Linked DNA regions of Homo sapiens: all the other regions are reported to be linked to region 2. The links are microRNA targets in miRTarBase. Many come from high-throughput screens and were not tested one by one. Region 2 holds a microRNA gene; each other region holds the end of a gene's coding sequence.

Region 1 (5,000 bases), not on the chromosome of region 2:
AGTGAAGTAGTGACGGAAGCCTGATCATAGACATTAAGGAAAGCGGTGTAGGTGTTGTGAGCTTTTGCTGTAAGAAAAAGTTGAGACTTTTGTTTTGCTTTGTTTGTGAGAGATGTGTATGTATTTCTGCTGAGTGATAAAGCCAGCGGGGAGGGACTGATTTTTATAGGAAAGGAGGAAAAATAATGGAAACACATCTCATTATTTTATTGTCACATTTCTTTTCTTTGTTATCTTTTGAGTGTTTCCCTTTTTTGCCAGTAGAGTTATTGTCTATTTTTTCTTTCTATAGGACAAAAAAACTAATACAGACTCCTTTATTTTTATATGGATATACTAGGATTGTAATTCAGATATTTAATATCTTTTATCAGTGTTCAGATCATAGATTAATGGAGAAAACATTTAAAATTGTTTTAAATTTAAATACATTGAACTCTAACATAGATGAAAAATGTGTTTACTGCTTTCAGTCGACCTGATAAAAAGCAACGTATGGTAAATATTGAAAACTCCAGGCATCGAAAACAAGAGCAGAAGCACCTTCAGCCACAGCCTTATAAAAGGGAAGGTAAATGGCATAAATATGGTCGCACTAATGGAAGACAAATGGCAAATCTTGAAATAGAATTGGGGCAATTACCTTTTGATCCTCAATACTGATTCACAATTGAGTTAAATTAGACAACTGTAAGAGAAAAATTTATGCTTTGTATAATGTTTGGTATTGAAACTAATGAAATTACCAAGATGACAATGTCTTTTCTTTTGTTTCTAAGTATCAGTTTGATAACTTTATATTATTCCTCAGAAGCATTAGTTAAAAGTCTACTAACCTGCATTTTCCTGTAGTTTAGCTTCGTTGAATTTTTTTTGACACTGGAAATGTTCAACTGTAGTTTTATTAAGGAAGCCAGGCATGCAACAGATTTTGTGCATGAAATGAGACTTCCTTTCAGTGTAAGAGCTTAAAGCAAGCTCAGTCATACATGACAAAGTGTAATTAACACTGATGTTTGTGTTAAATTTGCAGCAGAGCTTGAGAAAAGTACATTGTTCTGGAATTTCATCATTAACATTTTATAATCTTACACTCACTTCTTGTCTTTTTGTGGGTTCAAGAGCCCTCTGACTTGTGAAGAATTTGCTGCCCTCTTAAGAGCTTGCTGACTTGTTTTCTTGTGAAATTTTTTGCACATCTGAATATCGTGGAAGAAACAATAAAACTACACCATGAGGAAAACTAAAGGTCTTTATTTAAAATCTGGCATTGTATTAACATGTAATTTTATACTATGTGGTATTTTATACATTTCCTCAGTAGTGATATTTGGTAAAGCAGTTCATACAGCTTTTTTCTAAGTTCCATGAATCTTACCCAGTGTTTACCGAAGTATTTAAGCAGCATCTGAATATTTCCACCCAGCAATGTTAATTTATCTAGGAAAGTTCAGAATTTCATCTTCATGTTGAATTTCCCTTTTAACTTCCGTTCATAGACATATATGTGACTTCCAATTCGACCCTCTGGCAAGTGAGTGTGGAAGAAAACAGCAGTTCTTTTATAATTGCTTGAAATTAGGAAAGCGCTTATTTCCTAGAAGCAAATAAATGTTTAAGTAAATAAAGGCTACATTTTGCTGAGTACTGTTTCAGTCAATTTTAGAATTGCCTATTCTAATTGCTGTCTACAACTTTTTGCTTAATAAAAGAATTAACTTATAGGAAGTAAAATACTTTGATAGTTACAGAACTGGGGCTAATTTTGACTGGAGAAAAGACTAATTATGAAATGTGGGTTGAAACAGACCATAAAAAGGTTATATTATCTATTTACCTGAGGGTTTCCTAAACCTGGGGTAAAATTAAAATACTGAGTTTTCCTCTTTTTCATGTTTACTTACCTCTTCCAAAATGCTGAAGGTGATCAAGTGAGTAGGCAATGATGCATCATCATGAAACTCTCTATGTAACCAGTTTAAGGGATTTAGGTAAAATACATCTGCTTCATCAAGATAATGACTTTTTCCAGTCAGGTCTGGCGGGCACTGGAGAAATCTCATGGGAAGTGGGCAGTGAACATGGCTATGAAAAGAAAAGTTACCATAATAAATACAAGTAAAACATGAAAGTTTTCATTAGTCTTAAGATATGTCATTTATACTTAGCAAAATGTGAAATCTGAATCTGTAAACTGTGTTGCAGTTAAGTGAAGAAGCAAGCCTTTAACTCATTTTCTCAAAGATAAAAAAAACATGATTCTTATACCATGTACCTATGCAGCAGCAGCAGTATAACCTATAAGCCCAAACTAGTGCATAGAAGTCCATTTCAAGGAGGGAAGTAGGTCAGTAGGGGGACTCAACATTCTGTAGCATTGGTATTCTGTTCCGGAAACATAAATGGTCCTCAGGACCAGGTAAGTTAACTTGTTAATAGGAGAGTAATTCTCCATAGGTGTATTTGATAAAGTAGGAAACTGTGATCATAATCAGAAAGGATTCTTTCTCTCTTCCCTTTCTGCTCTGATAGGGGATGGATCACATACTTATATGGCAAGTTTTTTTTTTTTGAAGACAAGAGTTTCGCTCTCGTCACCCAGGCTGGAGTGCAATGGCGCAATCTCAGCTCACTGCAACCTCCACCTCCCAGCAATTCTCCTGTCTCAGCCTCCCAAGTAGCTGGGATTACAGGCGCCCGCCAACCACGCCTGGCTGATTTTTGTATTTTTTTAGTAGAGATGGGGTTTCACCATGTTGGCCAGGCTGGTCCTGAACTCCTAACCTCAGGTGATCCACCCGCCTCAGCCTTCCAAAGTGCTGGGATTACAGGTGTGAGCCACCACGCCCAGCCACATGGCAAGTTTGAAGTGTTTTTTTTTTTTATTTAAGATGATTGAGAAGTAGAGAGCAACATATGTCCACTGATTAACATCCAAATAAGTAATGGTTTTATTGTGGCATAGAAAGACTAGAGTAGGCCGGGTGCAGTGGCTTATGCCTGTAATCCCAGAACTTTGGGAGGCCAAGGCATGTGGATCACTGGAGGTCAGGAGTTCAAGACCAGCCTGGCCAACATGGTGAAACCCTGTATCTACTAAAAGTACAAAAATTAGCCGGGCATGGTGGTATGTGCCTGTAGTTCCAGCTACTCAAGAGGCTGAGGCAGGACAATTTCTTGAACCCAGAAGACGGAGGTTGCAGTGAGCTGAGATCATACGCCACTGCACTCCAGCCTGGGCGACAGAGCAAGAGTCTGTCTCAAAACAAAAAAAAGATTAGAGTATAAAAAAGATGGATTCATTTCTAATACCAGTTATGACAATTTAAGCCAGTTACTTAGGTCATGCAAAAAGCCATGTTTATAATTGCCTTAGGAAAAATTAAACCTCACTGATACAAACATTTAAAATTTCCAGTTAGAAATGGAGTTAGTAATTATGCAGGAGGTTTATTTATGAAATGCATAAAAATTAAATGTACACAAGACCTAATAGTGATTTATTTATTGGAAATGAAGGTCTTGTTTCAAAGGGAAGCAGAAATTCCTCAGAAAAAGCTGCCGGCCTACTCTAGTCTTTCTATGCCACAGTAAAGCCATTACTTATTTGGATGTTAATCAAGGGACAGATGTTGCTCTCTACTTCCAAGTCTGATGCAAAATAGGCATCAGACTTTCCTCTCTTGTGTGCTTTGAAAAGGTGTGGAGAACTTGGTGAACTATTCAAAGCCTAAGACATCAACTGACTACAGTTAAGTATAAAGAACATCTTGGTACATCTAGGATTCCTGTTCTCCTCAGTATTATCCCTAATGTGAGCACGGAGAGTGAATGTCCCTTTTTCAGCCACATATACATATAGTAGGGAATCCTCAAGTTGAAAGGATACTTGATGTCTTCCTTTTAGCCTGTGGTTTTTGCTAGGATCTCCATTTTTCTAAACTGTATATTAATTACTGGCATTAATGATTAGTTAAATAGGAGTATTCCAAGTGTTAAATTCCCCTAAAATGATAACCACTGTAATTAAATTAATTGAACGTGCATAGGAGACATTAACTCCAGATTGTTTAAAGCCAGACTGAGTTAAATAGTTATAGATTTTATGTATTTATTTATTTATTTTTAGGTTGAGTCTCGCTCTGTCGCCCAGGTTGGAGTGCAATGGTATGACCTCAGCTCACTGCAACCTCCGCCTCCCGAGTAGCTAGGACTACAGGCATGCGCCACAACACCTGGCCAATTTTTTTTGTATTTTAGTAGAGTCAGGGGTTCACCATGTGGCCCAGGCTAGTCTCAAACTCCTGAGCTCAGGCAGTCTGCCCGCCTCGGCCTCACAAAGTGCTAGGATTACAGGCGTGAGCCACAACGCCCAGCCTGGTATATAATTTTCTGTAGGAAATCTGGCTCCTTTGCCCCTATACCATTACTGGGTAATTAGTAACTAATACAGCTTCCTGAAATAAAGCACAGGAACAAATGGATGTCTTTTTAAAGGCCATACATAGTTGAGGCAATTTTAGTATATTTCCCAGAAACACTTAATTCAAGCATTAGAATATCATCTAGTCGCATTCCCTAATTTTTTACAGGTGAGACAACTGATGTCCAAAGAGATTAAAAATCTAGTTTAAGGCCGGGTGCGGTGGCTCACGCCTGTAATCCCAGCGCTTTGGGGAGGCTGAGGTGGGCGGATCACCTGAGGTCGGGAGTTCGAGATCAGCCTGACCAACATGGAGAAACCCTGTCTCCAATAAAAATACAAAATTAGCCGGGCATGGTGGCACATTCCTGTAATCTTAGCTACTCAGGAGGCTGAGGCAGGAGAATCGCTTGAACCCGGGAGGCAGAGGTTGTAGTGAGCCAAGATCACGCCATTGCACTCCAGCCTGGGCAACAAGAGCAAAACTCCATCTAAAAAAAAAAAAAAAGAAGTCTAGTTTAAGATGAGGGCAATAATCCAGTAGTAAATCTGGACTAAAATCCATGTTTTTTTTTTT
Region 2 (5,204 bases):
AATTAAAATGAAGAAGCTGACGTCCACTAGTGCCTGCCCACACCAGTAAGCAGAAGTGTAGAGGCCTGAAATCCATAGCTGGGACTTAGCATTTTTCTGATTAAAAAAAAAAAGAAAGAAAGAAATGTATATAGATTCAATTAAAATGCAAATCTAAAATAAACACAAACACATTGGAAGAATTTTTAAGATAAATATAATCTAATCTTCTAATATTAAAAAAAATTATGCATATACTGCTTAGTAACATGAGGCTTATAGAGCCAGTTCCATGGTTTACAAGGTGTCTATCAAAAATAAAATGTATACTGTGATAGGCCTGACTCATAACACAACTTTAGCTCATGAATAATGAAAAGTGGACCTCATAATGTTCAAGGCATTAAACTCTATAAAAATAAGTATTGGCCAGCATGGTGGCTCACGCCTGTAATCCCAGCACTTTGGGAGGCCAAGGCGGGTGGATCACAAGGTCAGGGGATTGAGGCCATCCTGGCTAACATGGTGAAAGCCCATTTTGACTAAAAACACAAAAAGTAGTTGGGCATGGTGGTGCAAGCCTGTAATCCCATCTACTCAGGAGGCTGAGGCAGAAGAACTGCTTGAACCCGGGAGGCGGAGTTTGCAGTGAACCGATTTTGCACCATTGCACTCCAGCCTGGGCAACAGAGTGAGACTCCATCTCAAAAAAAAAAAAAAAAAAGTATTATTTTGTGACCTGGAGGACATAATACATTTACCTTTACCTAAACATCTTGGAGAGTTTCTGGCTCAGGATGGTGAACGTTGATAGATTTAACTGCTTTGTCTGAATAATGGGCATAATCGAATACAAATATAACATAAAATTGCAATTTCCAGAGTGGAAAAGGAATTCAAGTCTTAAATTTGGCCTTTGATTTCAACATCAATGATTTCCTTCTTGTGGCTGGGAAATAATGTGGTCAAAAGATTTATAATATTTCCCTTTGAAGGTTTAGACTAATTGGAGTCTCTGAAAAATCACTGTACTTTTCAGGTGACTTTGGAATAAAAAGCATTTTGAGTTTTTAGAAGTAAATTATCTGACTTGCCAAGAATAAGGTTTAGCTACAATATCTAAATTAAACATACATTCAAATGTTTTTGTCAGAAGAAAACATTTTGAACACATAGCATTCAAAATACAGATATTGAAATTCCTGAAATTTCTTCTTTTCCCTGCTTTTTCTTACCTTGTAATCACTGATGCTGCCCATGGTGATATAAGGAGAAATGCTACATAGAACCAAAAATAAGAAAAAGGAACCATCCGGCAACCCAGTCCAGAGTCCTATGTGGCTCTGAAAATATAAAGGGTAGCTTAAACTAGTGAATATTTGTTAAATGAAACAAATAATTATAGCCACAAAAATGCACTTTTTGAAATGTTGAAAAATCAAAGTAAAGGTGTAGCTCATTACCATCTAGGCACGAAGGTGGGAGGGAAAGTGACTCTGATCTTCAACTCAAAGAACAAAGAGAAGTCAAAAGTCATTTAGGACCTACTTCTGGGGATATTTCCAAAAGAATTGAAAGCAAGCTCTCGAAGAGATACCCTCACATTCATATTCATACCAACAATACTCACAAGTGGAAGCAACCCAAAAGTCCAAATTAATGGATTAACAAAATGTGTATGTATATACAAACAATGGATACTATTCAACCTTAAAAAGGATCACTTGAGGTCAGGAGTCTGAACCAGCCTGACCAACATGGTGAAACCCCATCTCTACTAAAAATACAAAATCAGCCAGGTGTGGTGGTAAATGTCTGTAATCCCAGCAACTTGGGAGGCTGAGGCAGGAGAATCGCTTGAATCTGGGAGGCAGAGGTTGCAGTGAGCAGAGATCGCCCCATTGCACTGCAGCCTGAGCAACAAGAACAAAACTCGGTCTCAAAAAAAAAAAAAAAAAAAAAAGAAGGAAATCCTGTCACATGCTACAACATAGACGAACCTGGAAAATATGCTAAGTGAAATAAACCAGTTACAAAAAGACAAATATTCCACTTATATAAGGTTTCTAAACTAGTAATATTCATAGAAACATAATAGGATGGTTATTTCCAGGGGATGGGGGAGGGGGAAAGCTAATTGGCATCGAGTTTCAATTCCGCAAGACGGCAAAGTTCTGGAGATGCATTTCACAACAATGTGAATATACTTAATACTACTCAACTGTACACTTGCAAACAGCTAAAATGGTCAATTTTATATCATGTATTATTACCACAACAAAAAAACAATAATTCAGAAGTTAGGACCTCTGATGAACATATAATTCAGGCCTGAGTAGCACGTCTTTCTGAGCAAACCCAGAGATGGAAACCTCAGTAGCTGGGTGGATGTGTTCTGAAGCACAGAACCAAGAAGAAAACTTGTTGCTGCTTGTCTTAACTTCAGGGAAAGGAACTTTAAATCACTACCCCCAAATCAGCATCCACTTGAGGCTAGGCCAAGTGGACACTCTAGCAGCATCTAGGACCACCTCATGGATATAATTACAGGATAACAGCATGAGCCTGTCTCAAAATAATTCCACAATTATTTAACTTTATTTAAGACTTTGAGGGCTATGTCTATAAATTCTGTTTTTCATCATAGGAATGAGGGAGGAAAGGTGTGTGCCATGGGGAAGTGGGAGTGGGGAACAGGTTTCTAATAGAGTAGCTATGGGCTTCAGTCCATTTTGATCCTGAGCAAACACAATGGCATTAGGAAGCTAATAATTCAGAAGTTAGGACCTTTGATGAACACATAATTCAGGCCTGAGCAGCATGTCTTTCTGAGCAAACCCAGAGATGGAAACCTCAGTAGCTGGGTGGATGTGTTCTTTTGAAGGATAGCAGCATAAGCCTGTCTCAAAATAATTCTGCAGTGAGACAGGTTCATGCTGCTATCGTTCCAAAGAGGAAGGGTAATCACTGTCTCTTTCTGCTACTCCTCTGGTTCCACTTTCTGGAGAATTCCCTTCAGACACCCCTTCCCTCGAGTCATCCTGTGCAGCAGACCTGTTTACGTGATCAGTCGGTCATACTCAACTCACGGAGGTATGTGTCTGTCACGAACATCTCAAGTACTGTATATTTCATCCCCATTGTTCCCATGGCTTACAGAAAACCTGTGCTTGCATATACTCCCAGCACCACTGATTCAGTGAAGCCAAAACTGAGCTTCACACTTTTGTCACAAAATGGACTTCCCTTTGGATGGCTTCATTTCTAATCCTGCTTCTTGATGTTTCAGACTTCTGGTGTGAAACAGTTGGAGTCAGCTTTGAGACACCCCTGTTGGTATCAGGCAGGGTCTAACCAGAAAACCATGACTACGTTAAGTTCTTAGAGTGCAATTCCTTATGACATGGTTAGGTGGGTGATGAGCATCCCACAAAGATGGTGAAGTGAGAAGCAAGCTATTGTTGCTTCTGGGCTTCAGGAACAGCAGAAGGAGGTGATGTGACTGGAGCCCAATGTAGGGGGTCCTCTGCTCTTCTGTCTCCCACCACTGCTTTCTAGTGTCCAAACTGTCTGAAGCCAGACTATAGCCAACTGACACAGAATCCAATGCAGCCTGTGTGTATTAGGCTCCCTCACAACATAGAGCAACTATGAGTAGGTGAATAAATAAATCAACAGATAGCCCCAGAACTGGCAGATTCTCCTTCATATTAGTCTGTCTACTACACATTTAGTCAATGGAGGGTCCACTAACTAATTATAATAGATTTATATGTAACCAGGGTTACAAGTTCTCCTGATTTCCAAGTCAGTGTTTTCTTTTTTCTGTTTCTCTTTCTCATACACTTCCACAATCAAGTATGTACAACTTTTCAAAACATTGCCTAGAAGACTGACAAAATATTGAAAAGTATTCCCTCACGATAATTATCTGATAACTTGGCAGGAAAAAAAAATCCTGTTTTGTTTGCTATAACCCATTGAAAATATTAGGATAAAATAATAATTTTCAGGCTTAACAATCACTTATGGATATTTAAAAGCTAAAGAGAGAAAACATAGGCTATTTGTCCAATTCTTAATTGTTTAGACTCAGTAAATCCAATACTTACAAGAGGAAATGGGCTTGACTCAATTCGAATATGTTGTGTGTGATTAAACATTTGAAGTAGCCCATTGCTGATAATATTCATAAGAATTGGAAAACAGTGCAATCTCTTGGTATTACACACAACTGAAAATCTATAATCCTTAAAACAGAAACAAATAAATAATGTTAATGCTAAATTCTTAAAGAACAAAGGCAAGGTTTATGTATAAAAGATCCTAACAGTGCCACATGCTTGTTGTGTGTCCATCTTCAAGTGAACTAAACTTTCTGAGCTTTACCTTCCTCATCTATGAAAAGGAAATACTAAATGGGTTGTTATAGGGCTTAAATGACACTCTATTCATGTACATTAAGCTCTAGCACAGAGTCAGCATACAATCAATATGAATTTTTATTTGTATTACTAATTTTAGATAATTTTGTCTCCATTTTGCTGATGGGGAAATTTCATTTAGTAGAGTTTAAAAGTCTCCCTGACAAGGAGATGCTGTCAGTTTATGATGAAGAAGCAAAGGAAGATTGGGCATGGTGGCTCACACCTGTAATTCTAGCACTTTGGGAGGCCAAGGCGGGCAGATCACTTGAGGTTAGGAGTTTGAGACTAGCCTGGCCAACATAGCAAAACCCTATGTTTACTAAAAAATACAAAAATTAGCCAGGTGTGGTGGCACACATCTGTAATCCCAGCTACTTGGAAGGCTGAGGCAGAAGAATCACTTAAACTCAGAAGGCAGAGGTTGTAGTGAGCTGCGATCACACCACTGCACTCCAGCCTGGGTGACAGAGCGAGACTCTGTCTCAAAAAAAAAAAAAAAAGCAGCAGCAGCAGCAAAGGAATGCTGGCCTTCTGGATAGGAGATAAGCATGGAGTTCATTAAATATTCATCCTTACCCTGCCAAAGAAGCATTTCCCCACTTCCTAAAGCAATCTTTATATTTATGTACTTCATGTTTAGGAAAATGTTCATTAATCTATTAGAAGGTTTATTGTTTAAATCTTACCACTAGTTCATGTAGTAAATATGTGAGGTATGTAACGTAGTAGCTGACAAAGTAATTTCCCAAAACTGGCACAAAGCGATTACATTTTTTATAGCATATTTAGTTTATGTAG
Region 3 (5,204 bases), not on the chromosome of region 2:
TCCCAGGGGGTCTGCTGGCAGTTAGGGCAGGATCACTCTTTTCCTTGTTCGGGAATGTTCCTGAATGCCCAGCTTGAATGCCCTGCATTAAACAATGCATAAACAGTTCTGTTCAGCCATCGCGGGGACACTACACTCTATGGTCCCCACCCACTAAAGGAGACCCGTGTGCTACCTCTCAGGCGCTAAAGCAGCCTAAAGTATGAGGGACCCTTCCCATTTCTGCTTCCAGAGCACCCATTGGTGGGCCCAGCCACAGGTGGGACCTTGTGGCCAATCCAGGGAGGAGAGCAGTAAAGGTATGGTGCCCACATTCAGGGTGGTGGCAGAAGTCTGGGCAGGCCGAGGGCCCTCCAAAGAGCACTGTGTAGGGGATTGTGATTTTTTTTTTTTTTTCCTGGAGGGGACAGAGTCTCGCTCTGTCAACAGCCTGGAGTGCAGTGGCGCGATCTTGGCTCACTGCAACCTCCGCCTCTCGGGTTCAAACGTTTCTCTGAGTAGCTGGGACTACAGGCGCCCGCCACCACGCCAGCTAATTTTTGTATTTTCAGTAGAGACGGGGTTTCACCATGTTGGCCAGGATGGTCTAGATCTCTTGACCTCGTGATCCACCCACCTCGACCTCCCAAAGTGCGGAGATTACAGGTGTGAGCCACCACGCCCGGCTGGGATTGTGACTTAATGGACTTTGTCTGGAAACAGGGGAGGATGCCCTTTGCCGGTATTTCAGTAACGAGCGGATTCCTCCGATCATTGAAGAGAGCTCCTCTCCCCCATACCGGTTCTCCAGACCCACGACCGAGCGGCATCTGGTCCGGGGTGCGGACTACATCCGAGGAAGCAGGTGCTACATCAACTCAGATCTCCACAGCAGCGCCACGATTCCATTCCAGGAGGAAGGGACCAAAAAGAAATCTGGCTCCTCAGCTACGAAGTCCTCGTCCACAGAACCGTCCCTCCTGGTCAGCTGGTTTACGCGCCTCAAACTGTTGACTCACTGAGAGGGACCCTGCTCAGGCCACCTGCCTGGCTCCTGCCCCAAGTGCCTTGCTTTTACAGTGGACAGCCTCTTCTCGTTTCAGCCTCAGTATTATGTAGGGACCTTATGCAATTTCTTTTTCTTTTGAAAAGTTATCTACTGCCCTTCTTGGAAGTTTGCAGGATTGGATGGGAACAAATTCAGAGGATCTTAGGTGCTGGCTTGTGGAGACAAAAGGAGGGAAATGGGTAGAGCCTGTTTGTCTTGCTTCCCCAGAGATAGAATGTGAAGACACGCGCTAGAAATCGCAGTCCTGGCCAGAGACGTTATGGTCATTGTGAGGGACTGGTGGCATTGTTCCTTTTTGAGGGGCTGGGGGGACTCAAATTGGTGGCTGTTTTCACACAGATGTGTTGGTTTGTGGTCCAACTTCTTTATCTGAAAAAGCCAGTGAGAAAACATTTTTGATTTGATTTTTCTAAACTATCTACCATATTTTAAGTGTAGCAGCTTTGACTTTGCAATAACGTGGCAAGTATCTGATTTCTCCTTTGAGGCAGAGGTTTAAGTGTAGGCCTGTTACACTTGTTTGATACCTTTTTCATGACAGTCTCAGTATAGATCAGTTGGTACAGAAATACATGAACACATTTTGATAGGGCTTATTTCACACAAAGAAGTTTATGGTTATTTGTGTGGGGTGGTGTTGTTATATATTATTGTCTTTAAGGGAAAAGAAGCTATAAGATTCGCTGACAGCCAAAGTATCATTTAGAAAAGTGAAGCAACAAGATTTAGGTTGATGAAAGATACATGAGTTTGCATTTTGACCTGTTCAGTGTCTGTCTTCCAGCACGGTGTGTACACTTCTTCAAAATTGTACACAGTTTGCTAATTAGAAATATCTTGGAAAGCCTCATGGTCACTAATTTTCAACTAGCATCAGGTATTTTGAAAACGTGTGTCTGGATATTAACTCTTGTTTAAACTGAATGTATGATATTTTGTTAGAATGGAAAAGTACTATCTTGTTAATTTAAGTATTTTAAATATAGTTGTATATTTTTCTTACTCTTAGTCACCTGTAATTGAAATATTTCTGTTTTGCGTCATACACGAAGCTAGTGAAAAAGAAAGTGCAAGGCATTTTCAGATGAGCAAGTGACTATCGTGGCTGTTGCCAGCAGGGCAGTATTGTTAAAAAAAATCAAAATAAACCCTCCCAAGCATTTTGGGATTTTATGGATTAGAAATGGAAGAACAGGAGAAGCATATGCAAAGTGAAATTGCACGAGGGGAATTTTCTGAGGTATCTTCCTAGGCAGAGCCGAAATCTCCTACTCCAAAATGCCCTTTCTCATACCACCGGAATTGTTGAGTTTGCTGAACTGCCTGGAATTCAGCCCATGAAAATCACTGGAGTTAGGAAACATCTTCCCTTTAAAATGCTTCTGGTGTGGTTAAAGGAACTAGCAACCACTCATGTATAATTACTGTGACTGAATTCAGTCAGGCTGGTTTTTTTTGTTTGTTTGTTTGTTTTTGAGATGGAGTCTCAATCTGTCACCCAGGCTGGAGTGCAGTGGCGCAATCTCAGCTCACTGCAACCTCCACCTTCCAGGTTCAAGCGATTCTCCTGCCTCAGCCTCCCATGTAGCTGGGATTATAGGTGCCCGCCACCATGCCTGGCTAATTTTTGTATTTTTAGTGGAGACGGGGTTTCACTACGTTGGCCAGGCTGGTCTCAAACTCCCAACCTCAACTGATCTGCCGGCCTCAGCCTCCCAAAGTGCTGGGATTACAGGCATGAGCCACCACACCCGGCTCAGTCTGGCTGTTTTCTTCTCTACCTCTAAGACAACTGCCATGAAGATCTGGTATTTCGGCCTGGCGCAGTGGCTCATGCCTGTAATTCCAGAACTTTGGGGGGCCAAGGTGGGTGGATTACCTGGGGTCAGGAGTTCAAGACCAGCCTGGCCAACATGGTGAAACCCTGTCTCTACTAAAAATCAGCTTCGCATGGTGGTGGGCACCTGTAGTCCCAGCTACTCGGGAGGCTGAGGCAGGAGAATCACTTGAACCCTGGAGGCGGAGGTTGTAGTGAGCCAAGATCAGGCCACTGCACTCCAGCCTGGGTGACAGAAGGAGACTCTGTCTCAAAAAAAAAACAAAAAGAAAAAGATCTGGTATTTCATGGAGACATGGAGACCCAAGGGTGTTTGGCAGATGGAGAGAAGAGGCTTGCAGTGTGTGACCACAGGGTGTTCAACACACTAGGAGGGTGGGGTGTGGGCTGGGGAGGTCTCGTGTAGGGCACTGGTGATGAGGAGGGAGCTGTGTACGAGGGGCGAGCCAGCCCTGCCTGTTTTACTCTTGTCTTGAGCTGGCTTTATGCCCAGGAAGTGGGTGGCAACATCTCCTCTTACTCCCCAGATTGTGGGGAGAACTCTAAGAGCTGTAGTTCCACTGGATGATGAGTTAAATCACTCTGGAGGCCTTAGCTGGCTGGTGAGCTCTTTTTCTGTGGGGAAAATGCCACTTGTGAATTGAACAGCCATCCTTTAAGTGAATATTCGGCAGTCAGTCTTCATTATAGGCAGTGGCCAACCAGATTGGTGCTTTTCAGCCTTTGTTCCCTGGAGTCCCAGGACCCGCGAGAGAAGTTCCTGGCTCCTCTACTTGCAGTCACCCTCCACAGCTTCATCTTTCTTTTTATTTGAGGTTTTCTCCTGAATTGTGTTTGAAAAATATATTGCTGCTAAAAAAAAAAAACCTTTGTAAACCTCTACTATGGACATACATAAATAATAGTTTAATATGGATTTCTTAGAAATTAATGGAAACTGCTTGCCTCAGTAGTAATCCAGGTTTAATTGTGGACGTGTGTTCACATATGAAGTTGCTTGATGATGCTTTTTGACAGGATTCTTTATTTTTATTTCTTTAAAAAAAATTTTTTTTTTTTTCTGAGACAGATTCTCACTCTGTCACCCAGGCTAGAGTGCAGTGGTACAATCTCAACTCACTGCAGCCTCTGCCTCCCAGGTTCAGGCAATTCTCCTGCCTCAGCCTCCCAAGTAGCTGGGATTACAGGTGCCCGCCACCACACCTGGCTAATTTTTGTATTTTTAGTAGAGATGGAGTTTCACCATGTTGGCCAGGCTGATCTTGAACTCCTTGACAGGATACTTTACAAGAGTGATTGTTAAAACTCTCCCAGACACAACTCAACACCTACCCCTATTATAATATTTTATAGCATCACTTTTCAATCTTCAAATGAAAATCATGGATGATGAAGCTTACCTTCACTCATAAAAACATCACTCCATTTACTATTCTGAAATGAAACTAGCAGGTAATATAACTAGCCTCTAAAACATACCCATCAGTGACGTTCTAACTGAAACAGATAAGATATTTTATAATGAAATAATTATTTTCATATGTACATATTCTAGCATGGTTATATTACAAGATGTAATTAAACTACTAAGCAGGGCACATACTTTGTATGTGTGTGTATAAATATAAATATGTGAAAAATCACCATGAATGTGGTAGTTACCAATTCAGACCTGCTGCATTGGCAGTTCAATACCAGGAAAGGGGTCGATGTCAGCAGTATGATTTTCTAAAATGTGGCCAATTCTTTAGATAAAGTTCTAGGCATACCTAGTCTGTAATGGCTTCACTCATATAGTGCTTGCTGTGTGCCTGGCATTGTTCTAATACCTTTCTAATAAATCTATGAGGTGAGTACTGCTGTTAGTCCCGTTTTGCATATGAGGGAGTTACCCAGGTTATGTGCTAGTCATCCTGGTTATGTGCTAATAATGGCAGAGCTGGGATTAAAATGAAAGCAGCCTGGCTCTGGCTTTCTTGCTCATAATCACTCAGTATATAGGCTTCCTTCCATTTATAGAATTCTCTCATTGCATTCTTGAAAAATCCAAAGCATATTAAAACTGGGCTGAAAATTCTGTGTGTTTATATATAAAATGAAATGAGATCATAGATTTGTTATTGTAAACTGAGTTCCCATCTATATGAATATTGGGCGGGGCAATTGAAAGTTGTGTTGATGAGTCAGCTCTTTGTTGTGAGGGCTGTAAGCTGCAGGGCTTGTGTATCACGCATGCTCCAACAGGTTAAATCTCAGTAGTGGCCGCCCATCAGTGGCACCCCTAACATGCTCACATTTCCAGAACTGCCTCTTGGGCGG
Region 4 (5,204 bases), not on the chromosome of region 2:
AATTATATATGTGTAGGTACACCTGTGTGTGTATACATGTAGATATATAGATAACCATATCTATGTAACAACCACCCAGATCAAGATATGAAACATTTCTAAAGAGTGGTCCCTGGCTACACTTTCTGCTAAAAAATACCTATCCTTTCCCTAAGCTGAATTATTATTTTGACTTTTTCTTAACTATAGATTAGTTTTGCTTGTTTTTGAACTTCATATAAAGGGAGTCGTACAGTATGTACATTTCTGTGTCTAACTTCTATTGCTCAACATTCATGGGATGTATCCATGTTGTGGGTATTAGTAGTTCTTCCTTTTTATCGCTGAGTACTATTTCATTGTATGAATATACACAGTTTCTTCATGCATTCTTCTGTTGATGGACACTTAGATTGTTTCCATTTAGGCTATTATGAATAAGGCTACTGTGAACACCCCGAACAAGTCTTTTTATAGACATAATCATTCATTTCTCTTGGGTAAATTCCCCACAGTGGCAATGCTGGGTCATCCAGTGTGTCTGTGTCTCATTTCATTGAACGTTGGCAGTTCTTTCAAATATACATTGAGATTTCTCTAATTCTCTCTTCCCATCTTTCTCCTCTGCCACCACTCTAAACCACTCTTCTGCTTCTGTTACCAGACCTGTTTCCTGACTTGCGTTTTCCTCTCCACAGGACAAGAAGAGGTATTTACGCCTCCTGGAGATTCACAAAATAATGCGGACGCTACCGACTGCCAGATCTTTACACTCACCCCTCCACCTGCCCCGAGGAGTCCGGTCACAAGGGCCCAGCCCATCACAAAGACACCCAGGTGTCCCTTCCATTTTTTTCCACGAAGGCCCAGAATCCATTTTAGGTTTCCAAACAGACCTTTCGTCCCTTCAAGGTGTAACCACCGTTTTCCATTCCAGCCATTTTATTGGCCACACCGTTACCTTACTTATAGGTATTTCCCCAGAAGAAGACTCCAGAGAGGAAGCTCATCTGAGGAAAGCTGAGAGGGAAGAGAAACCCAAACATACTGAAGCAAAAAAAAGCCTATCCTTCAGAAAAAAGCAACAAAAAGATTTCTGTTTTATCTTTCGAAACTAAAACTATTGGATTTGAAGATTAAGTATCCTAAACATCACTGACTAGAAACTGTTCTCTTTGTCAGCAGTGAAGATATTGGATCATAGGTTATTGATGGTTGCAAAATTGGACAATAACCACGTTATTTTTATCCTCAACCTCTTATGGTCACAGGATATTTATGCAAATAAAATCTTTAAATGGGTGGCTCTAGTAATTCCTATCCATACTAAGATGCTGAGAGAATCCATCTCCTCCTCTAAATTAAACAGGATTTAAATAAATTGAGATCATTATAAACCACACGAAGAAACTGATGACACCGTTTTTATACTCATTGGAAAACATACAGAGCAAGGTGCATTGACAAAGTAAACTTTAAAAGAAATTATAAAGCTTAAAGCAATTAAAAAGTTATGAGGAGTCTGACTGTAGCTAATACTTTAAAGATATAAACTGACTTGTCTAACCCAAATAATAATAATTATTATTATTTTCTTGGAGACAGAATTTCACTCTTGTTACCCAGGCTGGAGTTTAGTGGTGCTGTCTCGGCTCACTGCAACCTCTGCCTCCCGGGTTCAAGCAATTCTCTTGCCTCAGCCTCCCAAGTAGCTGGGATTATAGGTGCTCGCTACCAAGCCTGGCCAATTTTTTGTATTTTTAGTAGAGATGGGGTTTCACCATGTTGGCCAGGCTGGTCTCGAACTCCTGACCTCAGGTGATCCACCCACCTCGGCCTCCCAGAGTGCTGGGATTACAGGCATGAGTCACTGCGCCCAGCCCCAAATAATTACTTTTAAACTATAGTATCTAAATTTACTTTAATGTTGACTTCAACTGATGCAAATTAATTTGATAATTTTCTCACTGTTTCCCGTTATCATTACATAGATGCTGGCTAAAATAATATACTTCCTCTCAAACTTTTAACGTAATTCCAGGTTCAAAATGCCTGATTAAACTGCTACAAGAATATTCTGGTACCTCTAGAACTCCACAGAGATAAGTTCACTCAACTCTTGGAACCTTGTATTCTCAGGGTGCAATATGAGAAACAAATCCCACAGATTGCATTGATTGGTTATTTGTTTTGGCCACTCTGTAAAACACATCTTCCTGTTTATGCCACTTATCTTGCCTGTAACATAAGAACTTTAGTTCTGCATATGTGGTCAGTGGTTTGCACTTTTTCCTCCCAAGATCTACATGCAAAAGTTGCTGTTGCTGCTGCTGCTACAAAAACAGAAAAAAAAAAATCAGGATGAAGACATGAAAGGACTTTGGGAATGGTTGCCCTAAAAAAGGAAAGAGAGATAAAATCATCATGCTATGTTTCTTTGCTTTATTAAAATGATCAAAAAAGAAAAAAACTATTTAATTCACATTCTAGAAAATATTCATTTTAAGAATAGATTTTTGCTTCAAATTTACAGGCTTCAATAAAAACCTACTTGAAAGTCTCTTCAGAAAAACAAAACAAAACTATATTTTGAAATAAACCCTACCTGCTCTCTTTTTTTTGGTTGATGGGGACATACCAGAAAAGGGCCAGCTTCAGGCAAACTTGAAGACAGATAAAGGTTTGTATTTGAAACCCACCTCCCCTTCTGACTCTCCTCCTTTATTCCGGCATGCTCACCACTCACCTAGGTACTCAGTGTCCTCATAGTGCCAGCAACTGCCAAAAACTAACCTACCTTTGACTGGGCTTTCTCTTCCCAAATGTTAGAACTTTTGCAATTCAAAATTTAATCGTTCTGAAATCTAGTCCTTGAAGGACTTGCTAAGTAATATGCCAGCCTCAGGTAAACTAAGACAAACTAATGATGGATGAACAGCTTCGATGCATTAATCACTGCATTAATTATAGAAGGCAGGCTACTCCTACAGTGTTTCAGAGTAAGGGCCTTTCAACATAGCTCTAGGTAAAATTGCATTATTCCTCACCCTGGAACATGTATAGAATATGAGAAGCAGCCCACACCTGCTATTAAAAGTATAGGCCTAGGAGTGCAAAAGGCTTATTTGGGGGAGGGAAGAATATGCTTTTGTGACTTAGAAAAATTTGCATCATTCCTTTGGATTCATAAATTCACTTTTTAAATACAGAGATTCCTAGCAGGTTTATTGAATTAGAAGGATAATGTGGAACCACTAATACCTCCATGTGAATTAGTTTCTCAAATTAGTTCCTTTCGACTAGCTGTTTTTGAAGCAATGGGAGTCTGTGGGATGGGTATAATAACTCTTCAATGCATTTTTTTTCTTTTGAGGCAGGAATTACAACAATAGTATTGTAAGTCTAAAGTTCTAATTATGCCCAAAACACATAACCTGAATCTAATCATCAAAAAAAAACTCAAATTAAGGAACATTTGCAAAACTGGCATCTTCAAAAATGTAGATGTCATGAAAGACAAAGATTAAAGGAGATTGAAGTGGATGACAATTCAGTGCAATATGTGATCTCCGATTAGATCCTGGAGGTCAGAAGGGGAGGGACAGGACATTTTGGCATAACTGGGACAACTGACAAATTTTAAATTTGGACCATGTATTGGGTAATAGTATTCTGTCAATGTTAAACTTCCTGAATTTCATAATTCTGTAAGAGAACATTCCTGTTCTTAAGGAAATAGATTTTGAAGCATTTAAGGGTAAATAAGTATGATCTCTGCAACTAAATCTCAAAAGATTCAGGAAAAATATGCATAGATATGCAGATATGTGCATATATATGATAGATAGATACATAGATAGATATATAGATAGGCAGACAGATGGGAAGTAATAAACCACATGTGGCAAATGTTTTTCCAGTTGATGTATTTGACTAAAGGGTATATGGGAGTTGTTTGTACTATTCTTGCAGCTCTTCTAGAGTTCGATATTATTTCAAGAACAATATTTAAAAATTATTTGAGGAGGTCTACTAGCTTGCTAGGGCTCCCATAACAAAGTGTCAGACTGGGTGGCTTAAACAACAGAAATGTATTTCTGGAGGCTAGAAGTCTAAGATCAAAGTGCCATCAGGGTTGGTTTTGATGTAAGGCAGGTGAGCCCCAAAGTGGGGCTTAGCCTGTGAGGGTTCTTGGCTTTGCCTAGGAAAGAATTCAAGGGCAAGCCAGAGGTAGAAGGAAACAGCTTTATTGAAGAGGCAGTGTTACAGCTTTGTGACTGCTCCTGCAGAGCAAGGCTACCCTGTAGGCAGAGAGTAGTACCCCAGGGCAGTTTTGCAGTCATATTTATACTCACTTGTAAGTCCATGCAGATTAAGGGGTGACTTATTCGGGAAGTTTGTAGGGAAGGGGTAGTAAATTTTGGGTCATTGGGTCAGTGCCATGGAAAGGGGCAGTAACTCCTGGGTGTTGCCATGACAATGGTAAATTGACACAGCACACTGGTGGGTGTGTCTGATTGAAGGGTATTGAAGGGTGCTTCCTCCTCACTTTCCACCCCTGTTTTAGCTAGTCCTCAATCTGGTCTGATGTCTAAGCCCCGCCTCTGGAGTCCATTCCTGCTTCCTACTTTGTTTCCTGTGAGGCCTCTCTCCCTGTCTTGCAGATGGCCACCCTCTTCCTCCTCTTCACATGGTCATTTCTCTGTGTACATGTGCTACTGGTGTCTCTCTTGTGTGACTAGATTTCTTCTTCTTATAAAGACACAAGTCAGATTGGATTAGGGCCCTTCCTAACAGCCTCATTTTAAATTAATCACCTCTTTGGTGAGGCCGAGGTGGGTGGATCATGAGGTCAGGAGATCGAGACCATCCTGGCTAACAAGGTGAAATCCCATCTCTATCAAAAATACAAAAAATTAGCCAGGCATGGTGGTGGGCACCTGTAGTCCCAGCTACTCAGGAGGCTGAGGCAGGAGAATGGCGTGATCCTGGGAGGCGGAGCTTGCAGTGAGCCGAGATTGCGCCACTGCACTCCAACCTGGGCGACAGAGCAAGACTCCATCAAAAAAAAAAAAAAAAAGTAATCACCTCTTTAAAGGCTCCATCTCCAAACAGTCACATGGTGAAGTATTGAGGAGGCTAAGCCTTCAACATGTGAATTTGGGGGAACACACTTCAGTCCATAACAAGAAGTATCCAATTTTCATAGCAGTAACTACAAACTC

Evidence for each region. The annotated mature microRNA hsa-miR-4524a-3p reads UGAGACAGGCUUAUGCUGCUAU and lies in region 2 at 2,865-2,886, opposite strand. An mRNA with a match to its seed (bases 2 to 7 or 8) in the 3' UTR can be bound and repressed. Matches are read on the target gene's strand: a 7mer-m8 pairs with bases 2 to 8, a 7mer-A1 pairs with bases 2 to 7 and ends in A, and an 8mer does both.
Region 1: miRTarBase lists CCPG1 as a target of hsa-miR-4524a-3p. The part of its 3' UTR that is shown has no 7-base or 8-base seed match.
Region 3: the mRNA of CNKSR3 is a reported target of hsa-miR-4524a-3p. Seed matches in the 3' UTR shown: 7mer-m8 at 2,973-2,979 and 8mer at 3,131-3,138.
Region 4: the mRNA of ODAPH is a reported target of hsa-miR-4524a-3p. The part of its 3' UTR that is shown has no 7-base or 8-base seed match.

The regions. Positions count from the first base shown.
Region 1 is chr15:55,351,883-55,356,882 of GRCh38, reverse strand. CCPG1 (cell cycle progression 1) reads left to right here. Exons shown (of 9, transcript NM_001204450.2): 9 at 474-1,644. The coding sequence ends at 663. It overlaps PIGB (phosphatidylinositol glycan anchor biosynthesis class B), which reads right to left. Exons shown (of 12, transcript NM_004855.5): 11 at 1,905-2,085; 12 at 1,235-1,597. The coding sequence ends at 1,451. It overlaps DNAAF4-CCPG1 (DNAAF4-CCPG1 readthrough (NMD candidate)), which reads left to right. Exons shown (of 16, transcript NR_037923.1): 16 at 474-1,660. Among named protein-coding and RNA genes, the nearest start is that of MIR628, 19 kb to the left of the region's middle. RefSeq lists an enhancer at 3,440-4,083.
Region 2 is chr17:69,096,706-69,101,909 of GRCh38, forward strand. MIR4524A (microRNA 4524a) reads right to left here and starts at 2,927; the gene lies at 2,859-2,927. It overlaps ABCA6 (ATP binding cassette subfamily A member 6), which reads right to left. Exons shown (of 39, transcript NM_080284.3): 22 at 4,092-4,229; 23 at 1,215-1,322; 24 at 1-96. MIR4524B (microRNA 4524b) reads left to right here and starts at 2,837; the gene lies at 2,837-2,951.
Region 3 is chr6:154,402,151-154,407,354 of GRCh38, reverse strand. CNKSR3 (CNKSR family member 3) reads left to right here. Exons shown (of 13, transcript NM_173515.4): 13 at 703-5,204. The coding sequence ends at 1,001. Among named protein-coding and RNA genes, the nearest start is that of IPCEF1, 48 kb to the right of the region's middle.
Region 4 is chr4:75,563,437-75,568,640 of GRCh38, forward strand. ODAPH (odontogenesis associated phosphoprotein) reads left to right here. Exons shown (of 2, transcript NM_178497.5): 2 at 678-1,381. The coding sequence ends at 1,003. Among named protein-coding and RNA genes, the nearest start is that of ODAPH, 10 kb to the left of the region's middle.